Homo sapiens: one gene and its partners. The protein of the gene in region 1 purifies or fractionates together with the protein of each later gene. This does not show direct contact. Each region holds a gene or a part of one and is shown in the gene's direction. Other genes may lie near its edges. The genes, in order: TRIM2, SART3, SRP9 and POP1.

Region 1 (7,679 bases):
CAGGCCCCTGAAGGCACGTAAGGAGCAGGGAGCCTGGTGACCTTGGTGCACCCAATGCCTCCCTAACTAGAGTAATGGAACACCAATGTGGTTTACATTCATAATCCCTTGCATTTGAGAATTTTTAAATCTACTTAAATTTTCAAACAAGGGACACTCACACCACCTCCCACACTTATTAGCATGCTGTTTTATCACTCCGATATGTTCAAGGGACCCACCCCCATAAAAGATGGAAGATGAATCAGAAAACTCAACTGGAATTGCACTCCCTAGAGGGGCCCTGGGAGTTGTTTAGATATGCATAGTCTCACCTCAAGGCACATGCTGGGTACAAGATCCCTTATCACACCTCCAGTCCTGCTCAGCTTTTTAAGGGAGCATTTCCTGATATATAGGTCTTTAACTACCAGGTGTATTTGCCCACTGTCCACCTGTGCCTTCAAGTACCGTACTTAACAAGTTGGAACCGAGGGAATGGTACACTTCACATTTTGCAACTGTTATGCAAATAGAACTTCAATGAAATTCCTCAAACTGTTGACTCTAGAAACCGTGGGAGACAAAGGGTCAGTGTCTGACTTCACGAACGTTACCAACTTGAAAAATGAGATCTATTCCTTAGTGTGTGGGAGGAAGACATTTAAATCTGTAGTACCCTCAAAGCCTCACTCTAAACCTGGTCTGGCACTTTTCAATGTGTGTTCTTTGATATGGTAAGTAGTTAAGTATATCCCACCAGAGACCTTCCAAGGATGGGTTTTTTCCTCCATATGACTTCTCTCACTCTTTGCAGGAGAATAAAATAGAGTTTCAACTGAACTTTAAAGCTGTAACCTGATCTCAGAATCATGCACCATAAACAGCATTTGTGCTTTTCAAGATACTTTCAAATCCATATAGTTTTCCAAGATATTCCTAGTTGCCACATTGGGTGATTTAATTTTTTTTTTTTTTTTTTTTTTTTGAGATGGAGTCTCACTCTGTTGCCCAGGCTGGAGAGCAGTGGCGAGATCTCGGCTCACTGCAACTTTCACCTCCCAGGTTCAAGCGATTCTTCTGCCTCAGCCTCCCAAGTAGCTGGGATTACAGACACCTGCTACCACGCATGGCTAATTTTTGTATTTTTAGGAGAGACAGGGTTTTGCCACATTGGCCAGGCCGGTCTCAAACTCCTGACCTCAGGTGATCTGCCTGCCTTGACCTCCCAAAGTAATGGGATTTCGGGTGTGATCCACCGTGCCTGGGCTGGGTGACTTAATTTTAAATGTAGGGACATCAAGCAAAATGTTGCTGAGGAGTCTCTTTCGCAGCAAAAGTCCTGTGAAATCTGCAAGGCCATCTTTTTCATGGGTCCCCAAATGTTTCACAGGCAACTGGGCAATAATTGCATTTCCAGGAATGCCAAATGGAGCCAAATCCTTTTAATAGCTCACTGACATGCAGGTTATTCCACTGGGGACCAAAAGGAAGGAACTAGAGCTCTCAAAATATTTGATTCTTGATTTGTGCTCTTCACTGGATGATTCTATTTTCTTGAGAGCATTTTTAACGAAACAGCAGCAATCAGTGATTTCTTAGAAATGTGGCCCCTTTAAATACACTTCAGTGAGGCTAGCTCTTGTGTTTCCTGGACACTCTGTGTGTTCTGGACATACTGGAGGCACAGCATAAATATTAATGCTGGCCATTACAAAAAGAAAATGAAAAGACCCCATAAGGCAGCAGTGACCCTAGAAGCCCCAGAAGCCGTGTTGGAACTGTGACAAGGAAGGATAGTGACAAGATCTGAAAAAAGCAGCCCTCTTCCCACACTCAACACATGCAGTAAACCCAGACATGCAGGGCACCATTGTCTGAGCTGTCACTGGAGGGCTGGGAGGAGACAGGGGATGGGGCAATGGCAGCCTACCCACCCCTCCTCATCACTGTCCAGGGGCATTCAGGAAACACAGGCTTCCAATATGAGGCTGCCTTTTTTTCTCACAAGCCATGCTCACTAGGAATCCATAGCGGCCATCTGCACACCGACCTGGTGGTGTCTCAAGCTTCCAGGTGTGGTTTTGGGGGCAGGGTCCTTGAGGAAGGGGGTGCTGCTGACAGTGAGGTAACCTGAGGTCAGCTCTGGACAGGGCTGGGTGGAAGAAGAGTGTAGTGACTGCTGATCCCTGTCCTTTCTAGGAATTGGGGTTACTGGGTCAGAGAAACATCTCAATACCTTCCAGGCTTCCAAGGCTGGTTGTAAACCTGCTCCTTGATAAAAGAAACTACATCCAACCTTTAGGAGCAAGGTGGGGTAACATGGGAGCAGATCTTAGTTCATTTGTTTGTTTGTTTTTGCTTGCCTGCTTGCTTTTTTGTTTTTTCTTTTTCTTTTTTTTTTTTTTTTTGAGACAGGGTTGCACACTGTTGCCCAGGTTGGAGTGCAGTGGTGCAATCATGGCTCACTGCAGCCTTCACCTCCCAGACAGGTGATTCTCCCACCTTAGCCTCCCAAGTACCTGGGACTACAGGCATGCACCACCATGCCTGGCTAATTATTTTTTATTTTTTTGTAGATATGGGATTTTACCATGTTGCCTGGGCTAGTCTCTGAACTCCTGGGCCCAAATACTCTGCCCACCTGGGCCTCCCAAAGTGCGGGATTACAGGCATGAACCACCTCACCCAGCCTACAAATTCTTATATGACAATTTGAATCTCTGCTTGGATTTGTTTTATCCTCTCTTGTGCTTGTAACTCAAACTTTAATACTTGAAAAGTTTCATCAAAATTTAAATATACTTTTCTAAATCTGTGAGAAGGCTGTCTCCCAAGATGGTTTGTTACTGCACATCTTTTCCCCGGTAGATGGAAATATCCCTTCTCTATTCTCTTTCCCTTAGTCTTTCAAAAACTCAGTGAGGAGGAAGTGCTTGCTTCTAGCTTCTGGCGGTAGGCTACATTTCCCAGCCTGTCAGAATGGCCTCTCTGCAGGCTTCAACCCTTATGAGAAATAAAGCTGTCCTTTAGCAAAGTCATCAAGCTAAGTGTCTGTCAACAGATGATGATTAAAGTGTGGTACATATACACCATGGAATACTACTCAGCCATAAAAAGAATGAAATCATGCCTTTGGCAGCAGCATGGATGAACCTGGAGGCCATTATCCTAAGTGAAATGAGTCAGAAACAGAAAGCCAAAAACTGCATGTTCTCAGTTATAAGTGGGAGGTACACAGTGGGTATATGTGGACATAGAGAGTGGAATAATAGGCATTGGAGGCTCCAAAAGGTGGGAAGATGGAAGGGGATAAAGGATGAAATATTGCCTATTGGATATAATGTACATTACTCAGATGATGAGTACACTAAAAGCCCAGACTTCACCATTACGCAATATTTCCATGTAAGAAAGCTGCACTCGTGGTGGTGTATGCCTGTGGTCCCAGCTATTCAGGAGGCTGAGGAGAGAGAATTGCTTGAGCCTGAGAGTTCGAGGCAGTGAGCTGTGATTGCACCACTGCAGTCCAGCCTGGGCAACGAAGTGAGACTCTGTCTCTAGGAAAAAAAGAAAAAGAAAGAAAAAGAAAAGAGGTGGATGCAGACTGGAGATTTAGGAAAGCCTTTTCAGCTCCTTTCTCTTGCCAAGTCTTGTTTGTGGCTTTGGTGGGTGGTTTTGTTTGGGGGCCTGTCTTCTTTATTCCCTTTTCTTTTTTCTCTTAATCAAAGCAGTCTGTTCTGGTACTGCAGTGAAACAACTCTTTCCAGTTCCTTTGCATGGTGGTTGTGCACGTAGCCTCCAGGCCTGGGCTTGCATCAGTCATTTTGTCTATTCATACAAAGGGAAATTTAGGCTTTGTTCAGTTCATCTCCTACCAGGGCATGTACTTTCACAGCTACTGCCTGGGAAGCTTTGTGTGCATGAGATATCACCAGTCTGCCAGGCTACCAACTTGACTGTAAGTGGAGAGACTAACTGATGAAGCAATGACTGTGTGCCAGGAACTGTTCTAAGTGCTTTATGTGTATGAGCCAGTCAGCCCACTATTACTGTTCTTCTCCATTTTCAGGTGAGGAAACTGAGGCTCAGATTGTTGAGAAAATTGTCCCAAGCCGCACAGCTGGTCAGGGGCAGGCCAGCATTCAGTTTCCAGAGCCTGTGTTTTTAACCATTATGTGATGCCTCCAGGGTACATTATATTCTTTTGCATGAATGTGCAAAAATATGTCTTCATGCTTCTATTTCTGTTCATTTAACTTGTTTCAATTTTTTTCTATCACAAATAATACAGCAATGAATGTTTTTGCAATAATAGCTTATAATGATAGTTAACATTTGTCGAATCGCTAACAAAGTGATGGGCTCTGTTTCAAGTTCTTTATGCATCTTAATTAATTTAATCTTTGTAGCAATCCCACTATTATTTTTTACTTATTTATTTATTTTTTGAGACAGAGTCTCGCTCTGTCGCCCAGGCTGGAGTGCAGTGGCACGATTTTGGCTCACTGCAACCTCTGCCTCCCGAGTTCAAGCAATTCTCCTGCCTCAGCCTTCCAAGTAGCTGGGATTACAGGTGCATGCCACCATGGCTGGCTGACTTTTGTATTTTTAGTAGAGACGGGTTTCACCATGTTAGCCAGCTGGTCTTGAACTCCTGACCTCAGGTGATCCACCCGCCTCGGCCTCCCAAAGTGCTGGGATTACAGGTGTGAACCACTGTGCCTGGCAAATCCTACTATTATTACTATTTAACGAATTTAATCTTTGTAACAAACCTACTATTATTACCATTTAACAGAAGAGGGAAACGAGGCACAGGACAGTTGGCTACATATTTTGTTCCAGATTGCACAATTAGAAAGTGGCAGCTTAGCACCATAAGACATAGTGAGGAAAAAAGAAAAAAAAAAAGTGGATGGGCTGGCATTGAAACCCAGAGCTGGTACTCTTATGATAGTGTCTAGACAATATCTGTGACCACACCTCTGATTGTACCTCAAGAAGAAAGATTTTTAAAGTGAAATTACTAGAGCATAAGATATAAACATTTAAAAGGTTTTTGATACATCTTACAAAAGTGCTTTTCAATAACACTGATTGATCATGCTCATTTGCATTTCCATGAGCACTGTGTAATTGATCAAGGACTCTAAAAGTTAGATAAGCCACTGATAAATGGAGATGCCCCTCTAAGTCCCTGGGCAGTAAAACCTGACCAGCATAGCCTCCAATAACCTGCATAGTGTTGAGGAGAGCTTGGATTTAAGAGATTAAGAGGGTCAAACTCTTTTCTGTCCATTTTAAAATGCAAGTTTTATTTAAGAGGAACTATCTAATATGCTGAAGACAGTATCAGGTATCTGTAAAATTGCTTTTTGTAACTCAGAATCTTGGAACAAAAGAAACAATAAAGAAAATTTGGAACCAGAACTGTTTACCCTACGGAAAATTTTTGTCCAAAGCAGCCTCTCAGCGTTCCACATCATTTTCATCATTATGAATAACGACAACAGCAACTAAGGTTTATGTTGCACTTTTGACTGAACACATGCCTCTTTCGTATTTCTTAGACCAAGCCAGTGTTTCTTGTACTTTCCTGATGATAAGAAGTACCAAGAGGTGTTGTTAGCTAGATCGTCATAAATAATCAGGCCTCCCCTAGGTAAGTTCTGATTTAGGAGGTCTGGGTTGGAGCCTTAAATCTGTGTTTTGACAAGCATACTAGGTGTTTTTTATTTTCTGAGGATTTTGGAAACTACTAGAAAACACAATAAAATTGCTGTAGTAGGTTCTTTTTTCAATGTTAAGCTATTAACATTAGAATGCTTGCTTTTAATTGGAATCAGGTGTTAAAGAGAAAATCTACAACGATCAGTCATTGCAACAGAAGTAACAATTATATACTAGCCTCACTTAGCATTCTTCACCCACACTGGTTCCCTAAATGTACATTTCTTAATTCTCTTGAATGTCTATTATACAGGCAGATGCAACTTGCAAATCACACTAACTCGAACATACACTTCAGTGCCTCACTAGAACCCCTAACTGACATCTTTTTCCTAAGTCAGTATACCTGGCATATGCCTGGCTAAAGTGCCACTTTCTCTTGTTTAGACCCTGAAGCTGATGTAGACTGGGAACTGATTACTGAGATCTAGACATACCTCCTCCTCTCCTCCACATAGGCCCACCCACCAAGAATCCCTACATTGGAAACCCTTGGGGTTCAAGGATCATGAGTCTGGGGCATGCACCCTGGGATCACTGTTCAGAGCTGAAAATGCATTTCCCCATGGAAACATTGATGTTGATGTGGTGCCGTTTTGCTAGAGTCCAAGTACATTTTCTGGTTTTTGTGGGCTGATCTGGGCTCTTGCTGCCATTTATCATATTTCTATAAAAAAAAAAGCTCAAAACTACATTAGGGAGGGGTGCATCTGGAGTGTTTGAAATATCCCAATTCTTGTTCTGGATGGTGTTTTTACCCTGTTACTATCCCTTTGTGATATTCCGTTGAGCTGTTGCCTTAGGATTTGTGCACTTCTCTGTTTTTGAATTATATTTATTAAAAATTTCAACATATGGGGGTTTGCAAGAAAAAAGGTTTCTTAAATAAAACCCCTCCATATGGAATATAGCCTTTTGGAAATTAAAAACAGGCATTGAAATCTATGATTAATATAAAGAATAAGAAAATAAATCAATTATCATTTTTTTTCACACTGTGGATAGAAGATTTCAAAAGAAACCCTTTCATGGTTCCTTTTATTTGTTTTTTCATCTGTAATTTGAGAATTAAACATTCAGTCACACTAGTCCCAAGCAATACAGTTCAAAAAACTTTTTTGCCTGTTTTTATTTTTTTGTTGTTGGTTTATGCAAATGAGGTTTTTAGCTGGAAACTTCAAAAGCCTGACACATATTAAAAATAAGCAGATTTATGATGAGTGGGATTTTTGGCAAGCAATTGAGAAAAATCACCAAGACTCCAAAGAGAGTTGTTCTCTTTCTGTCTTGGCTTTGTCATGTGCTCTTTCTTAATATTTGGTTTGAAGCAGTGTATGGTTCTGTAATGTGACCTGGAGCCTCTATTGAGTAAGCATCCCTGGAGACTAAGAAACATCTTTCTATGCTAATGGATTAGTCAAAGAAGATCAATGTATCATCATTTCAAGAAAATATTACAAGAAAGTATGCTCTTACTCTAATGGAAGCCAGTAGCAATTTTCTTGTCAATTTCCCAGCTATTTTTTAATATTATTTTAGTACTTACTTTCCTGTGCTGACTCTATGTTCAATCTAAAATTAATTGTTTGTCCCAGTTCACTTCCTTAGTCCCTAGACTCCAGTTGCAACTTTCATGATATTCTGTTCCTCTCCTGCAGAGGGTTTAAAGGGCTGCAGAATAAGAGGGCAGCTTGTACATTCTTTTGACAAAAGGAGGCATGTCTCTCAATGCTTCCCTTAGTTTCTATCCCCAGAAGTTCTCAAGATGAATGTCCAAGTCCATTTGTGCTACTATAACAAAATGCCTGAGGCTGGCGAATTTATAGACAATAGAAATTTATTTTTAGTTCTGGAGGCTGGAAAGTTCAAGAGCAAGGCACCAGGAGGTTTGGTGTCTGCTGAGGGCTGCTCTCTGATTCCAAGGTGGTGCCGTGAGCGTCTTTACATTGTGAAGGGGATGGAAGGAC
Region 2 (7,679 bases), on another chromosome or scaffold:
TGAACCCAGGAGGTAGAGGGTGCAGTGAGCCGTGATCATGCCTCTGCACGCTAGCCTGGGCGACAGAACGAGACTGTGTCTCAACAAACAAACAATTTCCCCTTTCAGATTTCGTACCCTCTTCCTTGTTGATTTCCCAATGGGAGCAGTCCCCCTGTGAGAAGCATTGCTACTAACCAGATAGACTGTTCTGAGATGATAGAGAATTTTTTGTGTATCTTTACAAGCCAAGAAGAATTCACAGTTTTTTGGTTTATAATCTGAATAATGAAAATAAGCGGTGTTTTATGAATATAAAACTATATTATATGTGTGTTTTTTTTTTTTTTTTTGAGAGAGAGTCTTACTCTTTCGCTTAGGCTGGAGTGCAGTGGTGTGATCTCGGCTCACTGCAACCTCCCCCCTACCCAGGTTCAAGCGATTCTCCTGCCTCAGCCTCCTGAGTAGCTGGGACTACAGGTGCCTGCCACAACGCCTGGCTAATTTTTCTATTTTTAGTAGAGACGGGGTTTCACCATATTGGCCAGGCTGGTTTCGATCTCCTGACCTTGTGGTCCTCCCACGTCAGTCTCCCAAAGTGCTGGGATTACAGGCGTGAGCCACCGCACCTGGCCAAATGTGTTTTTAAAAACTATACCTGTATCTCTGCTCTGTGGCCCATGAGTCTTCTTTTAGAGCCACTGATAATTTTAGCAGTGCATGGTGTTCCCATGATTTCTGATGATCCTGTTACCCCCTTCTTACTCTCTCACAGGCATTGTTAATAGCACCATTTATCTTTTTCTGAGGATCTATGGTCTTCCCCAGACTGTAATGTTTTTTAGTCCTTTATGGTCATCTCTGCTGTTAGGCCTTCACTGTCATTTAGTGCTGCTGTCTGAGTACTTTTTTGGTAGGCACATTTCGTTTGTTATGCATCAGTTTTGATATTTGGGTATTTTATATCCCAAACTAATTGAACACTTCTTATTTTTAGGTCCTAACATTTGGCTAGAGTATGGCCAGTACTCAGTTGGTGGGATTGGTCAGAAAGGTGGCCTTGAGAAAGTTCGCTCCGTGTTTGAAAGGGCTCTCTCGTCTGTTGGTTTACATATGACCAAAGGACTCGCCCTCTGGGAGGCTTACCGAGAGTTTGAAAGTGCGATTGTGGAAGCTGCTCGGGTGAGTACCTGTGGTTGTCTCTGAACGGGTTGGGGCTGTCTTTGTAAGTCTCCTTGGAAGGATTATTTTGAAACACATGTCCATGATGAATCTTGCAGTTCATATAGTTAACAAAATGGTCTTTGCCAATCCCTTAGTGGTGGGGTGATAGATAACCTTTTTTTATACCCCTTCTAGCATTTGGTACAATATGTATGGAAGAGGTCGTATAAATTTTTTTAGCTTGAACTGAAAATTTGTTGAGATATTTTTTGAAGTAGAAAGAACCAGAGTTGGCCAAGTGCGGTGGCTCATGCTTGTAATTCCAGCAGTTTGGGAGGCTGAGGCCAGAGGATCACTTGAGTTCAGGAGTACAAGACCAGCCTGGGCAATGTAGTGAGTCCCCATCTCTACAAGAACTAAAACATTAGCTGGGCATGATGGCGTATGCCTGTGGTCCTAGCTACTCAGGACTCTGAGGTGGGAGGATTGCATGAGCCTGGAGTGTGAGGCTGTAGTGAGTTGTGATCACACCACCACACTCCAGCCAGGGTGACAGCAAGAACCCTTCTCAAAAGAAAAAGAAAGAACCACAGTTTGTCATTTACTACTAATTTGCTTCTTTAGCCCGTAGCTGGCTTCCTTTCCCCTTTTGACCGGGAACAAACCTTTGATTCACAGCTTGAGAAAGTCCACAGTCTTTTCCGGCGACAGTTGGCGATCCCACTCTATGGTAAGAGAAACTGACATGTCAACAGCCAGCCCTCTATGGTTTTTAAAATGCTTTGGGGAACAACATGTAGTTAGACCTTTCCCACCATCCTGTGAGGCAGGTAAAGCTGGTGTTCTTACTCTCCTTGGATATTGTCTCTTTGGATGAGGTCCTTGGTAAAAACATCTTGAATGTTAGTGCTTAAGAGGGTTGTGAGGGTCAGAGGCAGGACTGGAAGCCAGACTCCCTGACTCCCAGGTGAGAGCTCTTTTCTCCTTTGAGACCTAGTTGGAAGGGCAGAGATAGGGTCTCTGAAAGGAATAGTGAATGACACCTGTATTTTTTGGGGAAACTTCATTGAACAAGAGTTCCATTATAATCATTTTCTCTTCACAAGTAACCTCTTCCATAACAGCAGGAATTTTACATGAGTTTAGATCATTCCTCTATGGGAGGGATTTGGTTCAGAAGTGCAGTTGATTGGAAGTACTCATAAGTGAGTTTCTTGGGGTTTGGTAAAGAGTTTCCTTATTTGGTAAATACATTTTGGCAATCTAAGCCTTTGAGTCTTTGGAGCTATGAGTGTGTGCGTGCTGGGAGGATTTTTCTGAGTATGGGAAGAGTTTGTCATGGCTGTTGTGTTTGTTCCCTAGACACGGGCATGTGTTGTACATACTCAGAACCTCTGGGCAACTTTACTGGAGCCCACATGTTATTTCTCTTCATGGTTTATTGGATTTAACAAGTTATAAAGTAGTCGTCTAATCAAATGGTTGGGTATCATGCAGAAAACACTAGAGCTGAGCCGGCTTGCAGATTTCACCTACCAGCGTGAAACAACCTAGCATAATGATTAGAGTGCGAACTTGAGCCAGACTGCTTGGGTTCACAGCCTTGCTCTACCATTAACTGTAGACGAGCAACTGAACCCTCTGCTTCAGTTTCCTCAACTGCAAAATGAGGATCACAATAGACTACCTTGTAGAGTGGGATGACTGAATGAGTTAGTGGATGTGAAGTGGTAGAACATAGGTAACACTGGGTAAGTGTTGTTAAATCGTTGCCACTAGTGTCATTGACTGATTAATTAGCTGGGAGGGTTGCCTGGGACATTGTTTTAAGACAGATTCTACAGACAGGTTTGGGCTCAGCAGAAATCAGAATTTGATCAGTAAGAGCTGCCATGCCACAGATGTGGGAGGGGCTAGTGGCACCTGAGTCTCATGGCTTAATCTGTGTTTGGGTTGATAAAGCCCAATGGCAAGACCCACGGGGCTGAATCCATCTTTCAATAGATATGGAGGCCACATTTGCAGAGTATGAAGAATGGTCAGAAGACCCAATACCAGAGTCAGTAATTCAGAACTATAACAAAGCACTACAGCAGCTGGAGAAATATAAACCCTATGAAGAAGCACTGGTAAGTGTTGGCTTCTTTTATAGTAAACGTCTCTCTACAAACCTTTCCCTGATGGATAGTTGCGAGTTAAACAGTATCTTTAAAATGTTTTATTCTGAAATATATAGAGTGTATAAATGTATACGTACAGTTTACATACTAATAATAAAGTGAACATCCATGTACCTACCACCCAGGTTAAGAAATAGAACATTGCCAGTACCTTAGAAGTCTCCTATGTGCCCCTCTCCGATTGCCTCCTCCTCCCTCTCCCGAGAGGTAATCACTTTCCTGACTTTTGTGATGATAATTCCCTTGCTTTTCTTTATAGTTTTACAAGCTATGAAAGTATCCTTAATTAATATATTGTTTAATTTTGCTTGCTTTTGAACTTTTATATATTGGAATCATGCTGTATATTTTATTTTCATTGAACATGCTTTTGGGTTTTACTCATGTTGCTAAGTATAACTCCGGTGCATTTGTTTTCACTGCTGTAAAGTTGTCTGTGTACTGCGATGTATTTATCCATGTTGCTGGATAGTTGGGTCATTTCCAGGTTTTTGCTAGGAGAAGGAGCAGCGCCACTCTGAACATTCTTGTGTGTATCTCCTTGTACACATGAAAAAGAGTTTCTCTAGAATACGTACTTAGGAATGACTTTGCTGGATCATAGGGTGATGTTAAAGTGTTTTCCAGGTTATCAGTTTGCACTGCTGTGAGCAGTATCTGAGAGTTCTCGTTGCTTGTGCCAATCTTGGATATTGGTCATACTTAAATTTTACTTAATTTGATGAATTTGAAATTGTAGTTTTAATTTGTATTTTCTTGGTTACTAATGAAGTTGAGCATCTTTTCACGTGGATTGGCCATTCAAATTTTTGTGCGTGTTAAAGTGTTCAGGCTGGGCACAGTGGCTTATGCCTATAATCCCAGCACTTTGGGAGGCCAAGGCGGGAGGATTGCTGGAGCCCAGGAGTTTGAGATCAGCCTGGCAGCGTAGCACAACCCTGTCTCTACCAAAAAAAAAAAAAAAAAAAAAAAAAAAAAGCCGGGCTTGGTGGCATGTGTCTGTAGTCCCAGCTTCTCCAGAGGCGAAGGTAGGAGGATTGTTTGAGCCCAGGAGGTCAAGGCTGCAGTGAGCTGTAATCATGCCACTGCATTGTCACCTAAGTGACAAAGCAAAACCCTATTTCTTAAAAAAAAGTCTGGGCCGGGCGGGGTGGCTCATGCCTGTAATCCCAGCACTTTCGGAGCCCAAGGCAGGTGAATCATGAGGTCAGGAGTTTGAGACCAGCCTGGCCAACATAGTGAAACCCCGTCTCTACTAAAAATACAAAAAATTAGCTGGGCATGGTGGCGGGCGCCTGTAATCCCAGCTGTTTGGGAGGCTGAGGCAGGGGAATCGCTTGAAGCCGGGAGGTGGAGGTTGCTGTGAGCCGAGATCGCACCACTGCACTCCATCCAGCCTGGGCAACAGTGTGAGACTCCGTCTCAAAAAAAAAAGTCTTTGACCCATTTCCCTTTTGATGTATCTTTTTTCTAATTGATTTGTGGGAGTGCTTTGTCTTAAGTCTTATTTTAGGCTGTATGTGTTGCAGATTTTCTCCCCAGTTGTTTGTCTTTTCACTTCTTTTTTTTTGAGACTGGAGTTTCGCTTTCACCCAGGCTGGAGTGAAGTGGCGTGATCTCGGCTCACTGCAACTTCCGCCCCGCCAGGTTCAAGCGATTCTCCTGCCTCAGCCTCCCAATTAGCTGGGATTATAGGCCCTTGTCACCAAGCCCCGCTAATTTTTGTATTTTTAGTAGAGACGGGGTTTCGCCATGTTGGCCAGGCTGGTCTCATACTCCTGACCTCAGGTGATTCACCTGCCTCAGCCTCCCAAAGGGCTGGGATTACAGGCGTGAGTCACTGCAACTGCCTTTTCACTTTTTTATTTTTTAACAGTGTCTTTTGATGAACAGTTCTTAGTGATCAATTAGATTAAAATTCTTTCCCTTTTGGTTGTGCTTTTGTTGTGCTTATTTAAAAAATATTCCCTACTTAGCTCTAATTTCTTCTAAAAGTTTTATAGTTTTCTGTTTCATATTTAGGCCCTCATCCACCTGGGATTGATTTTTGAGTGGTATGAGACTGCGTCTGGTTTCATTTTTCCATATGGAGAACCAGTTGTTCTAGTACTGAGTTTGATCATTCCTTCTTCCCCTCACTGATGTGCAGTGCCACATCTGTCATAGATTAGCTGTCCATTTATGTGTGGGTCTTTCTTCTGGATTTTCTGTTCTGTCCCACTGGTTTATGTTACACTGTTGTAATGATGAGAGTTATAATGTTTTGCTCTTGGATAGGGTGAGTCCCATCCACCTTTTTCCTCTTCAAGAGGATCTTGGCTTTTTTTTTTTTTTTGCCTTCAATGCTTCCATCGGATTTAGAATCAGCTTTTCTAGTTATATTTTTAAAATCTTTTTTTTTTTAATTGGAATTGCATTGAACCTGGAGATCAATTTGGGGAATAATTTACATCTTCCAATCTATGAACATATATAGGTTTCTGCTACTTATATCTTGTCTTTCTGTAAAGCTTTATAATAATATTATAAATTTGTCCAGTGTCTTCAACACTTGACCTTTAGAGTCCCCTGCAAGGGAGATTTGCTGGTAACAGATTTTCTGTGTTCAAAAAGGTCTTTGCTTCCCTTCTTGAAAATTATTTTCTTAGGCTATAGAATTCTAGACCGACAACAGCAAAAGAATTCTAGACGGACAATGTGTCCTCTCAGCAATTGATTGTATCTTTCTGTCTTCTGATGTCTGTTGTTGCTGTTGAGAAGTCAGCGGTTTGTATAAATCTTGCTTCTTCAGAGGTAGTCACTTTTTTGTCTGACTGCTTTTAAGATCTCATTGATTTGGTTTGCTGTCCTCTAATTTCACTGCAGTAGGTCCATGTGTGGACTGGCTTGAAGTTTTTTGGGCTTCTTGACTCTTTTTTTCTATCTTTCTTTGCCAACAATAGGATTGTGAAGGTCAGATTCTTAATATACGTCAAGCCAGCAAAAGGTTAATGTTTACTTAGCTTGCCACCCTCATTTAGATTTTGTCCTTAGTCCTTAGTATTTCTTGTTTCTTTGCCAGTTTGTTGATGACTTTTAAGAAGATATTATATTTAATTTAGCAGTTTTAGTTGTTTTGAATGGTACAGTGTGTCTGGGTAACTAATTCTTCCTCGTTACTGGAAATGGAGGCCCTGAAACATCCCCTTTCTACATATGGAGTCTGTGTGTTCTCTTACTCTCCTGCACTGCTTCATCCTTTCTTTTTCATGTGTAAATGATTTGCATGTACCTGTGCTTCCCAAAACTTCGATCATTCAATTATGTCATGGCCATCAGCAAAATGTGCCTGAAGAGAAAACATGTCGAATAAGATTTTTTTCTAAAAAGAATTTGATTGTATGTCTTTGGATCATTAAACATTCAGCACAGCTGCCTTCATCTTCTGCATTTATCTACATTCTTCCAGGAACTGATATTTGGAATAAGAAACCTGAAATAGCATCAGGCACCAAAATTTTCCAGTTTGGTTGTATTAACTCTACTCAGTAGCCCAAGAACATGACTTCTGGTTTGGAAGGGTGGTTGACAGTGGTCACTGGCAAAGGTGTTGCTCTTTCACTCAGTTCCTGATTGATGGGCTACTTAATTCCCTGTGGTCTAGGAATGGATTTAGAAAAGAGTTTATGGAGCCTTTGTAGCGACTGCCATGAACTGGCACTTTGGACCAGATGAGAAGACTCTTGTTTTGCTCAAGAAGTTGTAGAGGCCATAGTGGAGTGGTTCTGAGAGTGAGGATTTGGCGATTCATAGTTACTGTAGCCAGTTTTGCCAAAATTTATTTTATTTGCAGATGTGTTGTGCTTCCTGCCAGTAACTAAATTCAATACAATTTTCCTGTACTCCAGTTGCAGGCAGAGGCACCAAGGCTGGCAGAATATCAAGCATATATCGATTTTGAGATGAAAATTGGCGATCCTGCTCGCATTCAGTTGATCTTTGAGCGCGCCCTGGTCGAGAACTGCCTTGTCCCAGACTTATGGATCCGTTACAGTCAGTACCTAGTAAGATCACTGTTCTAATTTCATTTTATTTTTGCCAATTTAGAATCTACTTAAAATCAGTAAGAGTGCCAGGAGTTTGTTGCATACGGCCCTACTCTTGCTTTTCCTCCATCTGCTTTTTCTCCTCTTTGCCAACTCGTTTAGAAAGTTTTAGTGTTTCAAGTTATTTAAAAATGGTCACTAACTGTAAGTAAAATGAGCATATTGTCTGTGTTGAGGACTTATAACAACTTGATATTTTTCTTTTAACTTTTTATTATGGCAAAAATGTAAACATATAAAAGTAGACAGATCAGTAAAATGAAACTTCTGT
Region 3 (7,679 bases), on another chromosome or scaffold:
GACATTCTTGAAAGATTCCAATTTGGAAGCATCTGTACCCCCCAGAATATTGGTTCTTAGTATTTTGGGAGTCACAGGCTTTGGGACCATAAGAATAATATTTGCACCTTTCCTCAGAAAAATGGTATAAGTAAATGTATAAGTAAATGTTTGCAAACAATTTTAAGGGATTCATGGACCTCTGAAATACATTCTTAGCCCCCACAAAAATTATAATGGAGGTGGATGTCAGAGGTTAGCTCATTATTAAAAAGCAAAGGAGTCCAAGTGATGGGAGTTTAGCATTCGGGTCTTACTTTTCGTCTCTTGAGGTTTTGGTTATTTTATTGTCATGTCTAAGAATTATTTGAAGCATCTTCGTGTTAATTAAAAGTTCTGCTTCTTTTTAGAACTCAGCATATTGAAGGGATTTTATACTGAAAACCTCAGACCTGGTTATGTATGATGCTTCTTTTGTTTTGTGTTTGTTGTAACTCAGTTATCTCTTTTATGCTGCATTCATTTCCCACTCTCGTGTTACTGACCCCAAGTTAAATTAGGTTCTGTGGGAGACACAAAGGTGAATGAGATTCCGTTCAACCCTTAAGGAGCTGGTATTATTGGAGGGTATTATAGATCCAGTGTATTGTGACTGTATCCCTCGGAGAAGAAAGAAAATTAAAAGCAGATAAAATCTCGGAAAACCGGGGCTCAGGATCTTTTTTTTTTTTTTTCAATAGTTTTATTTTTTTTGAGACGAAATCTCGCACTGTCGCCCGGACTGGAGTGCAATGGCTCAATCTCAGCTCGCTGCAACCTCCACTTCCTGGGTTCAAACGGTTCTCCTGCCTCAGCTTCCCGAGTAGCTAGGTTTACAGGCGCCTGCCACCACACCTGGCTAATTTTTTGTATTTTTAATAGAGGCGGGGTTTCACCATCTTGGCCAGGCTGGTCTGGAACTCCTGACCTCGTGATCCACCCGCGTTGGCCTCCCAAAGTGTTGGGATTACAGGTGTGAGCCACTGCGCCCAGCCCAGGGCTCAGGATTTACTGTGTGAAACTATTGATGATCATTAAGTAATATGAATTATGTTTTAAGTGTATGCAGTGAGCTGGTAACCTGTAACTCCAATGCCACATACAGTTTATAGTGCATATAAGTTTAAAGTGTGCAGCAAGAAATGTTGATAATTATGATTAAAAATAGTATTAGACCCACAGAAAGACCTAGCTAAGTAACAAGCTGTAAAACATACTTCTATTTTTTACAATAAAATGATACAATAATAAATGATGGAAATTGTATTTTTTAAATTGAGTAATTTGTTTATAACACTGGTGACTTCTGGTTGCTTCATTTGGTTAGCTTCCCTTGTTGGCAGGGTCATTTGTTTCTTCATTCAGACAATGCTACTCTGAGACCACACAGGACTTTTATCCAGAAGTACCCACAGTATAAACTAAAAATACTTGAGACAACAGTAAAGAATATATAAATTCACATCAAGAGTAACTGTACTGTAAGAATGTGATGGCAGTGGTAGGGAAAATGAAAATAATTAGAGCATCACTGTGAGCAAAGCATGTCTAGAATAGACAAGAAAGAGAATATTTCACCTCTTACCCAGTCAGAAAATTGCAGTTGGCACAGGCTGGAGTGCAGTGGCACAAATCACAGTTCGCTGCACCATTGAACTGGGCTCGAGTGATCCTCCCACCTCAGCCTCCTGAGTAGCTGAGACTACAGACATGCCACCATGCCTGCCTAATTTTTTTTTTTTTTTTTTTTTTTTTTAAAGACGGGGCTCTTGCTTTGTTGCCCAGGTTGGTCTTAAATCCTTGCCTCAGGTGATTCTCCTGCCTCAGCTTCCCAAGTAGCTGGGATTACAGACACAAGCCATGGCGCCTGGCTTGACTGATATGTTGAGAGGGGAGAGGATGAGTGTAGAGGAAGAGCTTAACAGTTTTTTTTGTTTGTTTGTTTTCCAAGATGGAGTTTTGTTCTTGTTGCCCAGGCTGGAGGGCAGTGGCGCCATCTTGGCTCACTGCAACCTCCGCCTCTACGTGACAGGCATTTTACATATGTTTATATGTTACAGGCATTTAATATATATTTATGTGTGTTTACATAGATTTATACATAATATATGAACAATTACAGCAACCCATCAAAGTATATAAATGAATGATTTTATATCTGTTAAGTGATATACCTAGTTTCTTGAGAGATTAAGATGAAATTTGGACCCAGATCTTTGAACCCCAAGTCCATTCTCTTTCTGCTAGGGCTAAAGAACAAATTTTGTCAGGTCTCTGGAATCTGTTTTCCAAAATTCTCTGTCTTCTCTCCGCAACACATTTAACCTGTTGATTATACCCAGTATCTTTTTACCACTCTGTCTTGTATTGCTGTAATTGAAGATGGCATTACCACTGGATTATGTAATAACCTCTTTGTTGGTCTGTCAGCCTTTTTAGTTCCTTAACACTCTTGCCACAACTGTCTAAAAAACAAAAGTTGAATTCTTCATCTCCTGCTTAAAAACTGGCTCTTTGATAACTGGATATAGTCCCAACTCCCAGTCACAGTCTGACCCATCTCCAGTCTTTCTGGCTTTGTCTCACCATTTTCATGATCTTCAGCTCTAGTCTCATGAAGCTACCGGATTGTATCCTTGTTCAGAATGATTTTTAGCCTTTCTTCTGCCTTCTTCTATAAGGTTAAAACAAAAAAAGCATTTCAAAGCCACCTCCTTTTTTAGACTTTCCTTTTTCCCAGTCTAAGTTACTTGTTTTCTCTCTTTAGCATTTTATCTGTATATCCCTTTATAGGACTTAATTCATTCTGTCCTTGTGTTTTGGTTATTTTTGGTAAAGAACCTTGATTTTTCTTTCTTTATGGCATCTGACATGGTGACTTGGCACCCTCTAAATTACCAAATGGACCCTTTTATAAACACGATTGGCCTTTTTTCTTTTCTTTTTCTTTTTTTTTTTTTTTTTTTTTGAGACAGAGTTTTGCTTTTGTTGTCCAGGCTGGAGTGCAGTGGTGCAATCTCAGCTCACTGCAACCTCCGCCTCCCGAGTTCAAGCGATTCTCCTGCCTCAGCCTCCCGAGTAGCTGGGATTACAGACACCCACCACCATGCCCAGCTAATTTTTGTATTTTTAGTAGAGACGGGGTTTCACCATGTTGGCCAGACTGGTCTCGAACTCCTGACCTCGTGAGTGAACTCCTGCCCTCCCAAAGTGCTGGGATTATAGGCATGAGCCACTGCACCCAGCCATGATTGGCCTTTTAACTCTCATTTCTCCTAAATGAAACCAGTGAGTGTTCCTTTAACTGAGAGTTAAAACTTCACATAGTTGTCATGCTTAGTATATTTTTAAGTGTTTCGTTTCTAGAGAACTGAATTTTTAAAATGTGTAAAACTGAATTTACTAGATAAATAAATAGAATCAGGTATTCTAAAGATAATTAACCTAGTTACTACTATTTATACCTGCTTAAATGCTTGATGAGTTCCCTTTCCTCCTTCACTCAGACAAATCGCATATAGTGATGTAACTTTTTTTTTTCAGTCTCAGGAATGCAAAGACCGTAATGGGGAAAGCTGTAGGTTGCAGTTCCATTAGCCCTTTTTATTTAGTTTCCAGAATTGTCTTGAGGCCTCTGGTGCTAGATTGTAACCATTTTAAAATTATGTTTCTGTTCTGGCTTGTAGATAAGTAGCAGTTTTTATTTTATTTTATTTTATTTATTTATTTTTTTTGAAATGGAGTCTCGCTCTGTCCCCAGGCTGGAGTGCAATGGTGCGATCTCGGCTCACTGCAAGCTCCACCTCCCTGGTTCACACCATTCTCTTGCCTCAGCCTCCCGATTAGCTGGGACTGCAGGCACTCATCACCACGCCCGGCTAATTTTTTGTATTTTTTAGTAGAGACGGGGTTTCACCGTGTTAGCCAGGATGGTCTCAATCTCCTGACTTTATGATCCACCCGCCTTGGCCTCCCAAAGTGCTGAGATTACAGGCGTGAGCCACCGCGCCTGGCCGATACTTAGCAGTTTTTAAAACAGCTAGCTAAACAAGAGTTACTGATACTGGTTAGGGAAAAACTGCGATACACTGTGCTTGAATCCATCACTGAAAAAAAATAATGTTCGTGGAAGTGTTCTTGGGAGATGTCTTATAGGAATATGCTAATATCTAAATGCCTTGGCAATCTGTAGAATATTGAACATAAAGTATTGTGTAACATGGAACTTCAGTATAGGAGTTATTCTGGTTTTTGGAAAAGTTGTTGGTGGAGACTTCAAGGCAGAATTCTGCTTTTATGTAATAATGCGTTATGTTCTACCTTCGTGATAAAGACCTGATTTTGCTGAATATTTTAGTCTGAATCTGCTTGCTAAGATTTGTGGAAAAATGGAAAGTGTGAGTTGCACTGACCTGCAGCACTGTTTGCTAATGAATGGATTTGGACTTTTTAACTAGCCATTTCTGCTAAATGTTTTCCTCCCTTTCCTGTCATTCCTCTGTGGCTAGGTGTGTTGGTGTATATTCTTATTGGCAAGAAATGCCACCTTATAAGTCTCACAGACATTCCCTGAATGTGGATGTGTTTTGAGAATGTTCAGTACATCTCTTCAAACTGGCTGCAAATAAAATATCCAACTTTTTAAGTCTTAAATAAATGGTAGCAAAGGAATGAACTAAAATAGCTGATTTTTTTTTTAACTTCATTTCGGTTTAGTTTATAGTAAAAATGCCTTTAGATGTTTGGGGGTATTTATTCTAAAAGGATCCTTTTCAGCCTACCTGAAGACTAAATTATTTATAAGAAATGTCATTTGTCTTCACTGTTTCTAAATATGTATTTTTGTTTCAGGCACGTGTGGTTCTCAAATATAGGCATTCTGATGGGAACTTGTGTGTTAAAGTAACAGATGATTTAGTTGTAAGTATACATTTTTATTTGTTACATACTTTCAGATTTGTTTGAGTTAATTATTTGTTTGAAATTATTTACTTAGAGTTTATGGAGATTACCCATTAGGATGCTTATTTTGCATTTCATTTAAAGATGAAGAACCTCATTCTAGCAGCTACTTTTATAGACCCTCAGGAAATTATTTAACCTGCTTTCTTAATGCATTATGTCAAGTGTCTTTAATAAGTGCTGTCTTCAGACCTTAAGCAACAGAAATGTAGAGACCAAATTGGATGTAAGGGAGTAAAAGTTTCCTTTAAATGACAGTGTTTGAACACAACTTACAGGCTTTATTGTATTTCCTGTCTTTGATATGCTCATTCTTGTTACTTCCTCATATCCCATTCATTCCTTAACCCTCTGCCATTTGTTTTCTGCATATGGTACTCCAGCGAAACTGCTCTTTGTGAGAGCACATCAGCAGCTCCTTTCTTTTCAAACCCAGTGGTCTTATTATTCATATGTTATTTGACCTCCTTGCTGCTTTTGATACAGAAGCCCACTCTTTCATAGAAATAATTATTTTGGCACTTGTGGTTCTGTTTTATCTTGGCCTTACTATTCTGTGTTTCTGTTGTTTCATTCTTCTTTGCTGATTGTTTTTTTTTTGATGTGCCCCATATATATGTGCTTCTCTAGGATTCTGTCCTTGATTGTCTTTTCATAACAGCTTCTGGAGCAGTTCATTTAACTGAGTCTAATACTGCATCTGTCTATGTCTACTTGCAAATGTGTGTTTAGTTCATATTCTTCTGACTTTCTGACTAGCATCTGTATCTCACATACCCTCAAAATTCACTTATCTACAGTGGAGTTTATCACCTGTTCTTTTTTTTTTTTTTTTTTTTTTTTTTTTTTTTTTTGAGACGGAGTCTTGCTCTGTCGCCCAGGCTGGAGTGCAGTGGTGTGATCTCGGCTCACTGCAAGCTCTGCCTCCCGGGTTCATGCCATTCTTCTGCCTCAGCCTCCCGAGTAGCTGGGACTACAGGCACCCACCACCACGCCCAGCTAATTTTTTTTTGTATTTTTAGTAGAGACAGGGTTTCACCATGTTGGCCAGGATGATCTGGATCTCCTGACCTCGTGATCCACCCGTCTCGGCCTCCGAAAATGGTGGGATTACAGGCATGAACCACCCCACCCGGCCTATCATCTGTTCTTAAACTAGCTCTTTCTCATGCCTGTAATCCCAGCATTTTGGAAGGTCAAGTGGGCAGATCACAAGGTCAGGAGATCGAGACCATCCTGGCTAACACGGTGAAACCCCATCTCTACTAAAAATACAAAAAAATTAGCCAGGCATGGTGGCGGGCACCTGTAGTCCCAGCTACTCAGGAGGCTGAGGCAGGAGAATGGCATAAACCTGGGAGGTGGAGCTTGCAGTGAGCAGAGATCGTGCCACTGCACTCCAGCCTGGGTGACACAGCAAGACTCCATCTCAAAAAAACAAACAAAAAAACTAGCTGCTTCTTCTGTTCCTACCTTCCTACCTTTAGTTGCATTATTTTCCACGTGGTCAGAAATCTGGGGATTTTTTTTAATTAAAAAAATTTTTTTAGAGACAGGATATCGCTATGTTGCCCAGGCTGGTCTTGAACTCCTGGCTTCAAGCAGTCCTCCCACTCAGCCTCCCAAGTTGCTGGGATTACACACATGGGCCACAGTGCACAGCCCAGAGTGATTTCTATTTAGACGGAGTCTCGCTCTGTTGCAAGGCTGGAGTGCAGTGGGCGATCTCTGCTCACTGCAGCCTCCACCTCCTGGGTTCAAGTGATTCTCCTGCCTCAGCCTCCTGAGTAGCTGGGACTACAGCCGTGCACCACCACGCCCAACTAATTTTTTTTTTTTTTTTTTTTAGTAGAGACGGGGTTTTCACCATGTTGACCAGGATGGTCTCCATCTCTTTACCTCATGATCCACCCACCTTGGCCTCTGAAAGTGCTGAGATTACAGGGGTGAGCCACTGCGCCTGGCCTTTTCTTTTTATTTGTTTGTTTGTTTGATGGAGTCTCGCTCTGTCGCCCAGGCTGGAGTGCAGTGGCGCAATCTCGGCTCACTGCAAACTGCCTCCTGGGTTCACGCCATTCTCCTGCCTCAGCCTCCTGAGTAGCTGGGACTACAGGCGCCCGCCACCACGCCTGGCTAATTTTGTGTATTTTTAGTAGAGACGGGGTTTCACCCTGTTAGCCAGGATGGTCTCGAACTCCTGACCTCGTGATCTGCCCGCCTTGGCCTCCCAAAGTGTTGGGATTATAGGCGTGAGCCACTGTGCCTGGACTTTTTTTTTTTTTTTTTTTTAAAGAAGGAGTCTGGCTCTATTACCCAGACTGGAGTGCAATGGTTCATTCTTGGCTCACTGCAACCTCTGCCTTCCGGGTTCAAGCAATTCTCCTGCCTCGGCCTCCCAAGTAGGTGGGATTACAGGTGGGCACCACCACACCCAGCTAATTTTTGTATTTTTAGTAGAGATGAGATTTCACCATGTCGCCCAGGCGGCTGGAGTTGAACTCCTGACCTCAAGCGATCCACCCACCTCGGCCTCCCAAAGTGCTGGGATTACAGGTGTGATCCACCACGCCCAGCCCCAGAGTGATTTCTGAAAGGCTAATTTGATTGTTACTCCCTTGCTTAGAAACCTTTAAACTCCACCCTTGCATCCTCTCTAATCTCTGTCATTTCTGTATTATGTAAGAGCTCCTTTAATGTGC
Region 4 (7,679 bases), on another chromosome or scaffold:
TCGTGCCACTGCACTCCAGCCTGGGTGACAGTGAGACTGTCCCAAAAAAAAGGAAAAAAAAAAAGATTATAATCTATGTGAGATGAAGATATGTATGTATCCCCACTAGGAGGAATGGTTCAGTATTCACTAATTCATTGACGTAATTCAGGGACGTATGAAACATGACTACTATAAATAATGAAAATTGGCTATGCATATTTTAGAGCTGGTATATTTTATTTCTACCTTAACATCAATGATTATTATACTTCTGTGTTTCCTAAGAGAAGTGCAGTATAGTCATCATATCTGTATTTCACTGGTGTGCTGATTTTAGAACCTTATGAAGTGATAGGAAGATCACAGTTGTTCATTAGGGCAGCGGTAGAAAGTGCTAATTTGGGAAGACAGCAAAAGCAAGTGTCCAAGGACTTGTTTGGAGTGCTTTAAAAAACTGCATTGGGTCTGATTAAGTAAATTTTAGAGTCAAGTTCATAAGGTCTAGATTCAGATCCTACAGTTGATGCCTACCATGCCATATGATAAGGCTTTCACATTTTTTTTATCTCATTTAAACCTCACAATGTTCTAAGATTTATAGTGGCTTAATAATTAACACCACAATTGAAATAAGCAGAAACACTATAAAATTCTCTACTGATCTCTCCCTTAATTTACAGACAGTTTTTTTTTTTTTTTTTTTTTTTTGAGGCAGAGTCTTGCTCTGTCACCCAGGCTGGAGTGCAATGGTGCGATCTCGGCTCACTGCAACCTCCACCTCCTGGGTTCAAGCGATTCTCCTGCCTCAGCCTCCTGAGTAGCTGAGACTACAGGCGTGTGCTGCCACTCTTGGCTAATTTTTGTATTTTTAGTAGAGACAGGGTTTCACCATATTGGCCATGCTGGTGTCAAACTCCTAACCTCAAGTGATCCACCTGCTTCGGCCTCCCAAAGTGCTGGGATTACAGGCGTGAGCCACTGTACCCGGCCACAGACAGATATTTAATGTTGTCTTATAGTCATAATGCCCAGACACTTGTATGGAAATGTTGCCTTTTTTTTGGAGATGGAGTCTTGCTCTGTTGCCTGGGCTGGAGTGCAGTGGTGCGATCTTGGCCCACTGCAACCTCTGCCTCCCGGGTTCAAGCAATTATCCTGCCTCAGCCTCCCGAGTAGCTGGGACTACAGTCACATGCTGCCACACCCAGCTAATTTTTTGTATTTAGTAGAGACGGGGTTTTACCATGTTGCCCAGGCTAGTCTTGAACTCCTGAGCTCAGGCAATCCACCCACCTTGGCCTCCCAAAGTGCTGGGATTACAGACATGAGCTACTGTGCCTGGCTGGAAATTTTGCTTTTTAAAGTTTTAAGACAGGATCCCACTCTGTCACCCATGCTGAAGGGTAATGGCACAATCGTGGCTCACTTCAACCTTGACCTCCTGGGCTCAGGTGATCCTCCCACCTCAGCTTCCCGAGTAACTGGGGCTACAAGCATGTGCCATTATGCCCAGCAAATTTTTTTTTTTTTTTTTGGTAGAGACAGGGTTTTGCCACGTTGACCAGTTAGTCTCAAACTCCTGGACTCAAGTGATCTGCCCACCTTGGCCTCTCAAAGTTCTGGGATTAGAGGTGTGAGCCACCACATCCATCCTGGAACTTTGCTTTTAGTTATTTATTTAGTATAGTGGCTCTCAATTTGAGTGTGGCAGAGAGTTAGGATAAAAGACTGTACACAATCATGTGGATTATAGTATTAAGGGAGTGTCGTTTGGGCTGCTGTAACAAAATACAGGTTGAGCATTCCTAATCCAAAAATCTGAAGTCTAAAATGCTCCAAAATCCAAAACTTTTTGAGCGCCGACATGACATGACAGGTGGAAAATTGCACATCCGACCTCATGTGATGGGTCACAGTCAGAATGAAGGCATATAACACACAGTTTATTCAGCATTCCCATGGGAAAAAAGATGTTCCCAGCCCCCTTCAGCTGTGATATAAATATTTCCAAGCACTCCCAGATTTCACCACGTAAGCACACCCACAAAGACAAATAAAATACATGTAATTTTTACTGTTAAATACTTACATGTGAGTAAGTGTAAGAAAGTGATTGCTTATCAGTAGCATATAGATTCAGAGTCAGGAAGGATGCTGATGCCAGCCAACCACAGATTGTCCACAGGGTGGCTGAGATAGTGGCACCTTTGCTTTCTGATGGTTCAAGTATACAATGTGCAAAAAGTTTCATGCACAAATTATTAAAAATATTGTATAAAATTACCTTCAGGCTGTGTATGATAAGGCGAAAGAAGTGTAATTGAATTTTGTCTTTAGACTTGTGTTCTATCCTCAAGATATCTCATTTTATATATATACGAATATTCCAAAATCCAAAAAAATTGGAATTTGATACACTTCTGGTCCCAGTTATTTCAGATGAGGGATACACAACCTGTATCTTACTGGGTAGCTTATAAATAACAAATGTATTTCTCACAGTTCTGAGGGCTGAAAAGTCCAAGATGAAGGAGCGGGCAGGTTTGGTGACTGGTGTGGGCCTGCCTTCTGGTTCATATACAGCACCTTTTCACTGGTTCTCACATGGTGGAAGGAGCGAGGGTCTCTGTGAGCACTCCTTTATAAGGATACTAATCTCATTCATGAAGGCTCTACCCTCATGACCTAATCGCCTCCTAAAGGCCCCACCTCCTAATACCATCACCTCGGGGGTTAGGATTTCAACACTGGAATTTTGGGGGACATAAGCATTCAGACCATAGCAGGGAGCTTAGATTTGAAATTCATGTTGCACCGTTTATAGGAGAAAATTTCACCTGTATCTGTTATATCCAAGGTCCTTTATATGTCATCCTGACATGATTACCTTGTGTGCTACCTACTAGCTTTGTGACCTCGAGCAAGTTAATTCACCTTCCTACGTAAGATTCCTCTTTAAAAATAAGTAGTAATAGCCACCTTACAGGGTGACTATAGGATTAAAAACATGGTCAATGTTGCCACCCAACAAATATTAGTTCTCCACTATAATGTTTATCTCTGATAAAGGTGACATGTTTCTTTTTGAAAATATACTAGAGCCTCATCCTGGAACTTCACGACAGCGGCAAACCAGAGTCAACCCCCATTCTCTGCCTGACCCTGAAGTGAATGAGCAGTCTTCCTCCAAAGGGATGTTTAGAAAAAAGGGAGGATGGAAAGCAGGTCCCGAGGGCACGTCTCAGGAGATCCCCAAGTATATAACTGGTGGGTACTCATAAAGAGGTGCAGTTTGCTTGTATTTTGAACTCTCGTGTCTAGTGCAGCAACAAACTGCCCTCCTTGTGGTCCTGGCTCTGCCTCCCCTACCTCTCCTCTCCTCCTCCTACTTTAGACCCTTCTCGCCTCTAGCCTGGACTTTGGCCAGAGCTTCCTTGGGCTTGATGGCTCTCCCTTCTTCAGTTTCTCTCCCTGTCTCTTACTCTTCTTCTTACAAGTCTTTGTGAACTGTTCCTCTTTGTCTTAGCCCCCGTGCCCCTCTTGTTTTAAATATGCCATCCACACTCAGCACAGCATTCTCCAAGGATGGAAAATTGAGTACACACAAATGGCAACCAAACCTTTATTTAAAGGGCCTGTCTCCAGGCCCTTTCCATCCTCTTCTGTTCTTCACCCTATGATCCCCATCCACACTACCACAATTAAACCCTATATTCCTTGTACCTTGTACCTATACCTTAGATATGCTTTCTGGTCTCTCTTTACGCCTTCTTGGTGGAGGAATTCAGTTAAGTTTCCCCAGCAGCCTGTTTATTCTCCAATGTTAATTCAAGATTGGTGTTTAATGACTTTGTCATCTCCTTCAACAGCTTCTACTTTTGCTCAAGCACGAGCTGCTGAAATCAGTGCTATGTTAAAAGCTGTGACCCAGAAGTCTTCGAATTCACTGGTTTTTCAGACTCTGCCACGGCACATGCGACGAAGAGCCATGAGCCACAACGTCAAACGCCTTCCCAGACGGTTACAGGAGATTGCCCAGAAAGAGGTAGGAGTTCCACTTAGTGTAAATGTTTAGATTAGTAGCTCCTAGAAGAAATTGAGAAGTATTGACCTAATAGAATTTATTAAAAATGAAAACCAAGGCTGGGCATGGTGGCTCACGCCTGTAATCTCAGCACTTTGAGAGGCTGAGGTGGTCAGATTGCTTGAGCCCAGGAGTTCAAGACCAGCCTGGGCAATATGGCCTAACCTTGTCTCTACAAAAAAATCCGCAAATTAGCTGGGCGTGATGGTACATGTGTGCCTGTAGTCCCAGCTACTTGGAAACTGAGATGGGAGGGTACCCTGAGCCAGGGGAGGTTGAGGCTGCAATGAGCTGTGATCATGCTACTGTACTCCAGCCTGGGTGACAGTGAGACCTTGTCTAAAAAGAAAAAAAAAACTCAGAAAACATCACCCTTATGGTTTTTGTTTTTGTTTTGCATATATTTGATTTAATCATTATCCAAACTTCTTCCCTTCAAACGAAATTCACAGGCAATTGGCTATTATGGGTGCTTTGAAATATAGGATTTGATACTCCTCTCTTGTAAGGGTGTTGAATAGTTGATGTTCCCTTCCCAGATGTTAAAAAAAAACTCTGACCCTCTTACCGAGTGGTTTTGGATCTGTGTTTCTAGGGTGTGCCCAGCTTGGGGTAGGAAGGTTAAAAAAAAGCAATGTCAATGCTTAGCATTTGCTTTCTGACTTTTTCGAAGTTGAAAACTTGAACTGGGTTTTAATTTTTGTACAAGTCTAATTGTGTTTTGGCTTCACCAGAATTCTAGACTTGAACATTCTAAGATTAAGCCCATGTCTTTACTAATTGGTTTAAAACCTATTTATTGAGCAGCCTTCTATGTACCATTGCTATGCTGGTGGTGGGGTTTGAGTTCAAGAGGGAAAACTAACAAGGAATTTTATACTTTCTAGATTTAATATAAAATCTGTTTCCCAGTGATAGCATTCAGCATGTGTATGTCTGTAGCTTAACTGAGATGAAATGTATGGGTTTTCCTCACTTGTATTATTTTTGGTCTTAAGTTTTTGGTTTTAGTTACAATTCTACAGGTTAAAATGACAACAAGAAGCTAGCATTTGATTTCTTCTTTCTTGCCCTCTAATACTAATAGCCATATTAAGCTTGTGTTACTGTGTTGAACATTTTATAAGTATTCTGATCTTCATATTCCATGAAACTTGCCTAGTTAGTGAGTGATGGAACTGTGCCTCCTTCCTAGGTCTCCTAGCTCTAAAACATTCACTCTTTCCATTGTCTTCCTTCTCTACTTACATTGAAGAAACTAAGTTAACAATTTAAGCAAACTAATGGGATCTATAAAATATTCCACTTAATCTAAAGTTATTTGTTTGCATTCCTGACCGTTAACTCTGTTTTGAGATTCTTACAAACTGGGATATGTCCCTCTACTTGAAACTATAGGCGGAGAAAGCCGTACATCAGAAAAAAGAACATTCAAAAAATAAATGCCATAAAGCTCGAAGATGTCACATGAACCGGACGCTAGAATTTAACCGTAGACAAAAGAAGAACATTTGGTTAGAAACTCACATCTGGCACGCCAAGCGGTTTCATATGGTCAAGAAGTGGGGCTACTGCCTTGGGGAGAGGCCAACAGTCAAGAGCCACAGAGCCTGCTATCGAGCCATGACGAACCGGTGCCTCCTGCAGGTGAGCTTTTCCAGTGGGCTTTTTTTGTTATTTTTGTTTGATCCTTTTCCATAGAGGCCTTTAGAATAGTTTATGATGTGCCAAGCCCCGTTTATGTGATTATTCATTTTAAAAATAATTCCTGAGCATGAAGCCCGGGTCCTTTGCCAGATGCTGGAGATCAGGCAGCCTAAAGTTAGGGGGGTGACTGACATTAATCAAACGATTTACCAGATATGTGGTTGTAAGGGAAAAGCATACAGTATGATGAGCATTTCTAACCTAACTGGAAGGCGTCCCCCAGAAGTGCTGTTTGAGCTGAGCTCTAAGGGATAAGATGGGAGGAGAGGGGGAAGGCAGAAGGAAGCCAGGTGAGAGTGAAGAACTGGAATCAATTCTGTGTGACAGAGAAGAAGAGAAGGAGAACAAGGCAACATCAGGGCAAGGTTAGCCTAGAGAAAAGAGTAGGAACCAGGTCGTGCAGGTCTTGTTGATCATGTCAAGTTTTATTCACTATAGATTAATCTAACAGTCGTTCATCAATAACAGATATTTGAGAATCAACTGTGTACCCTGAACAGGGTTCAGAATGCTGGTCTAGGTGTTTATGGGTCAGTGGGATGCTGGGAAGGATGTTTTAAATTTTAAACGCTTTGAGAGGACAGATTATGTTAGAGCCTCTTAATAGTATTTATCTGATTGCTCCCTCCTCTCAGAAGCTAATTCAGTTGCTTTCTATTTCTTCCAATACATACTTAGACATTTGTTCTTTGCAGAAGGGCCTATCTTTCAGTGGCAGAATGGCCTTGGCCAAATTTTGAAAGCCATTACTATTGGTGTCCTTTGATACCCCTTGAGAGTAATGTGGTAGAATAAGCAATACAAGAATCTTTTTAAAAAATTGTGGTCAAATATACATAACAAAACCATTTGACCATTTTAAGTGTATAGTTCTGTGGCATTAAGTACGTTTACGTTGTGTAATCAGTACCACCATCCATCTCCAGAACTTTTTTATCCTTCCAAACTGAAACTCTCGACTCATTAAACACTAACTCCCATTCCTTCAGCCCCTGGCAGCCACCATTCTATTGTCTATCCAATAATTTGATCCTATAGGTGCTTCATAGGGGTGAAATCATACAATATTTGTCTTTTTGTGACTGGCTTATTTCATTTAGCATAATGTCTTAAAATTCATCCGTGTTGTAGCATGTGTCAGAATTCCCTTCCCTTTTAAGGCTGAAGATGTATTCCATTGTAGGTATATACCGTATCTTGATTATTCATTTATCTGTCAGTGGACATTTGGCTTACTTCCACCTTTTGGCTATTGTAAATAATGCTGCTGTGAACATGGATATGCAAATATCGTTACAGTCCCTGCTTTCAGTCCTCTTGAATATATCCCCAGAAGTGTAATTGCTGGATCATATGATAATTCTATGTTAATTTTATGTTTAATTTTTTGAGGTACTGCCTTACCATTTTCCATAGCAACTGTATCATTTTACATTCCCACCAGCAATACACAAGGGTTCCAATTTCTCCTCATCCTTTTCAGTACTTGTTACTTTATTTATTTATTTGATCACAGTCATTCTAATGAGTGTGAAGTGAATAAGAGGACCTTTTAGGAGTCTTTGATTTGAGAACTCAGCAGCAGAAATCATAGATAATAGTCAAGTTCCTCATTCACATTGAGGAAGCTGGGTTCTGGAGAGATGAAGTGACTTGCCTGGGCTCACACAGCTTGTTGGTGGCCTACATAGCACTTGGGTGGCTGATTCCCCTGGCTTGTGCTTTTTCCACTGTCCTCTGCCAATGAGTTACTTTTCATTTTGGGCATAATTTTTGCTGAAGTTATCAGATATTTTCTCTAAAATTTGATCAGCCCTAAGTAATAAAACTAATAGCTAATAATAACAAATATTAGTGAGTGCTTAATATATGCCCTACCCTGTTTTAAATGGTTTGCATGTGTTTA

The links.
Region 2: the proteins of TRIM2 (region 1) and SART3 purify together in Homo sapiens (affinity purification with mass spectrometry, with the first as the bait; one large-scale study listed by BioGRID). This does not show direct contact.
Region 3: the proteins of TRIM2 (region 1) and SRP9 purify together in Homo sapiens (affinity purification with mass spectrometry, with the first as the bait; one large-scale study listed by BioGRID). This does not show direct contact.
Region 4: the proteins of TRIM2 (region 1) and POP1 purify together in Homo sapiens (affinity purification with mass spectrometry, with the first as the bait; one large-scale study listed by BioGRID). This does not show direct contact.

The regions. Positions count from the first base shown.
Region 1 is NC_000004.12:153,209,116-153,216,794, forward strand, and holds part of TRIM2 (tripartite motif-containing protein 2), read left to right. Parts: intron 1-7,679. UniProt on the Homo sapiens protein: UBE2D1-dependent E3 ubiquitin-protein ligase that mediates the ubiquitination of NEFL and of phosphorylated BCL2L11. Plays a neuroprotective function. May play a role in neuronal rapid ischemic tolerance.
Region 2 is NC_000012.12:108,538,621-108,546,299, reverse strand, and holds part of SART3 (spliceosome associated factor 3, U4/U6 recycling protein), read left to right. Parts: intron 1-976; coding exon 977-1,161; intron 1,162-1,767; coding exon of another isoform or gene 1,768-1,821; coding exon 1,822-1,873; intron 1,874-3,147; coding exon 3,148-3,272; intron 3,273-3,455; exon of another isoform or gene 3,456-3,488; coding exon of another isoform or gene 3,489-3,530; intron 3,531-7,210; coding exon 7,211-7,366; intron 7,367-7,679. UniProt on the Homo sapiens protein: U6 snRNP-binding protein that functions as a recycling factor of the splicing machinery. Promotes the initial reassembly of U4 and U6 snRNPs following their ejection from the spliceosome during its maturation.
Region 3 is NC_000001.11:225,778,431-225,786,109, forward strand, and holds part of SRP9 (signal recognition particle 9 kDa protein), read left to right. Parts: intron 1-4,869; coding exon 4,870-4,938; intron 4,939-7,679. UniProt on the Homo sapiens protein: Component of the signal recognition particle (SRP) complex, a ribonucleoprotein complex that mediates the cotranslational targeting of secretory and membrane proteins to the endoplasmic reticulum (ER).
Region 4 is NC_000008.11:98,124,514-98,132,192, forward strand, and holds part of POP1 (ribonucleases P/MRP protein subunit POP1), read left to right. Parts: intron 1-3,081; coding exon 3,082-3,249; intron 3,250-3,851; coding exon 3,852-4,027; intron 4,028-5,464; coding exon 5,465-5,713; intron 5,714-7,679. UniProt on the Homo sapiens protein: Component of ribonuclease P, a ribonucleoprotein complex that generates mature tRNA molecules by cleaving their 5'-ends. Also a component of the MRP ribonuclease complex, which cleaves pre-rRNA sequences.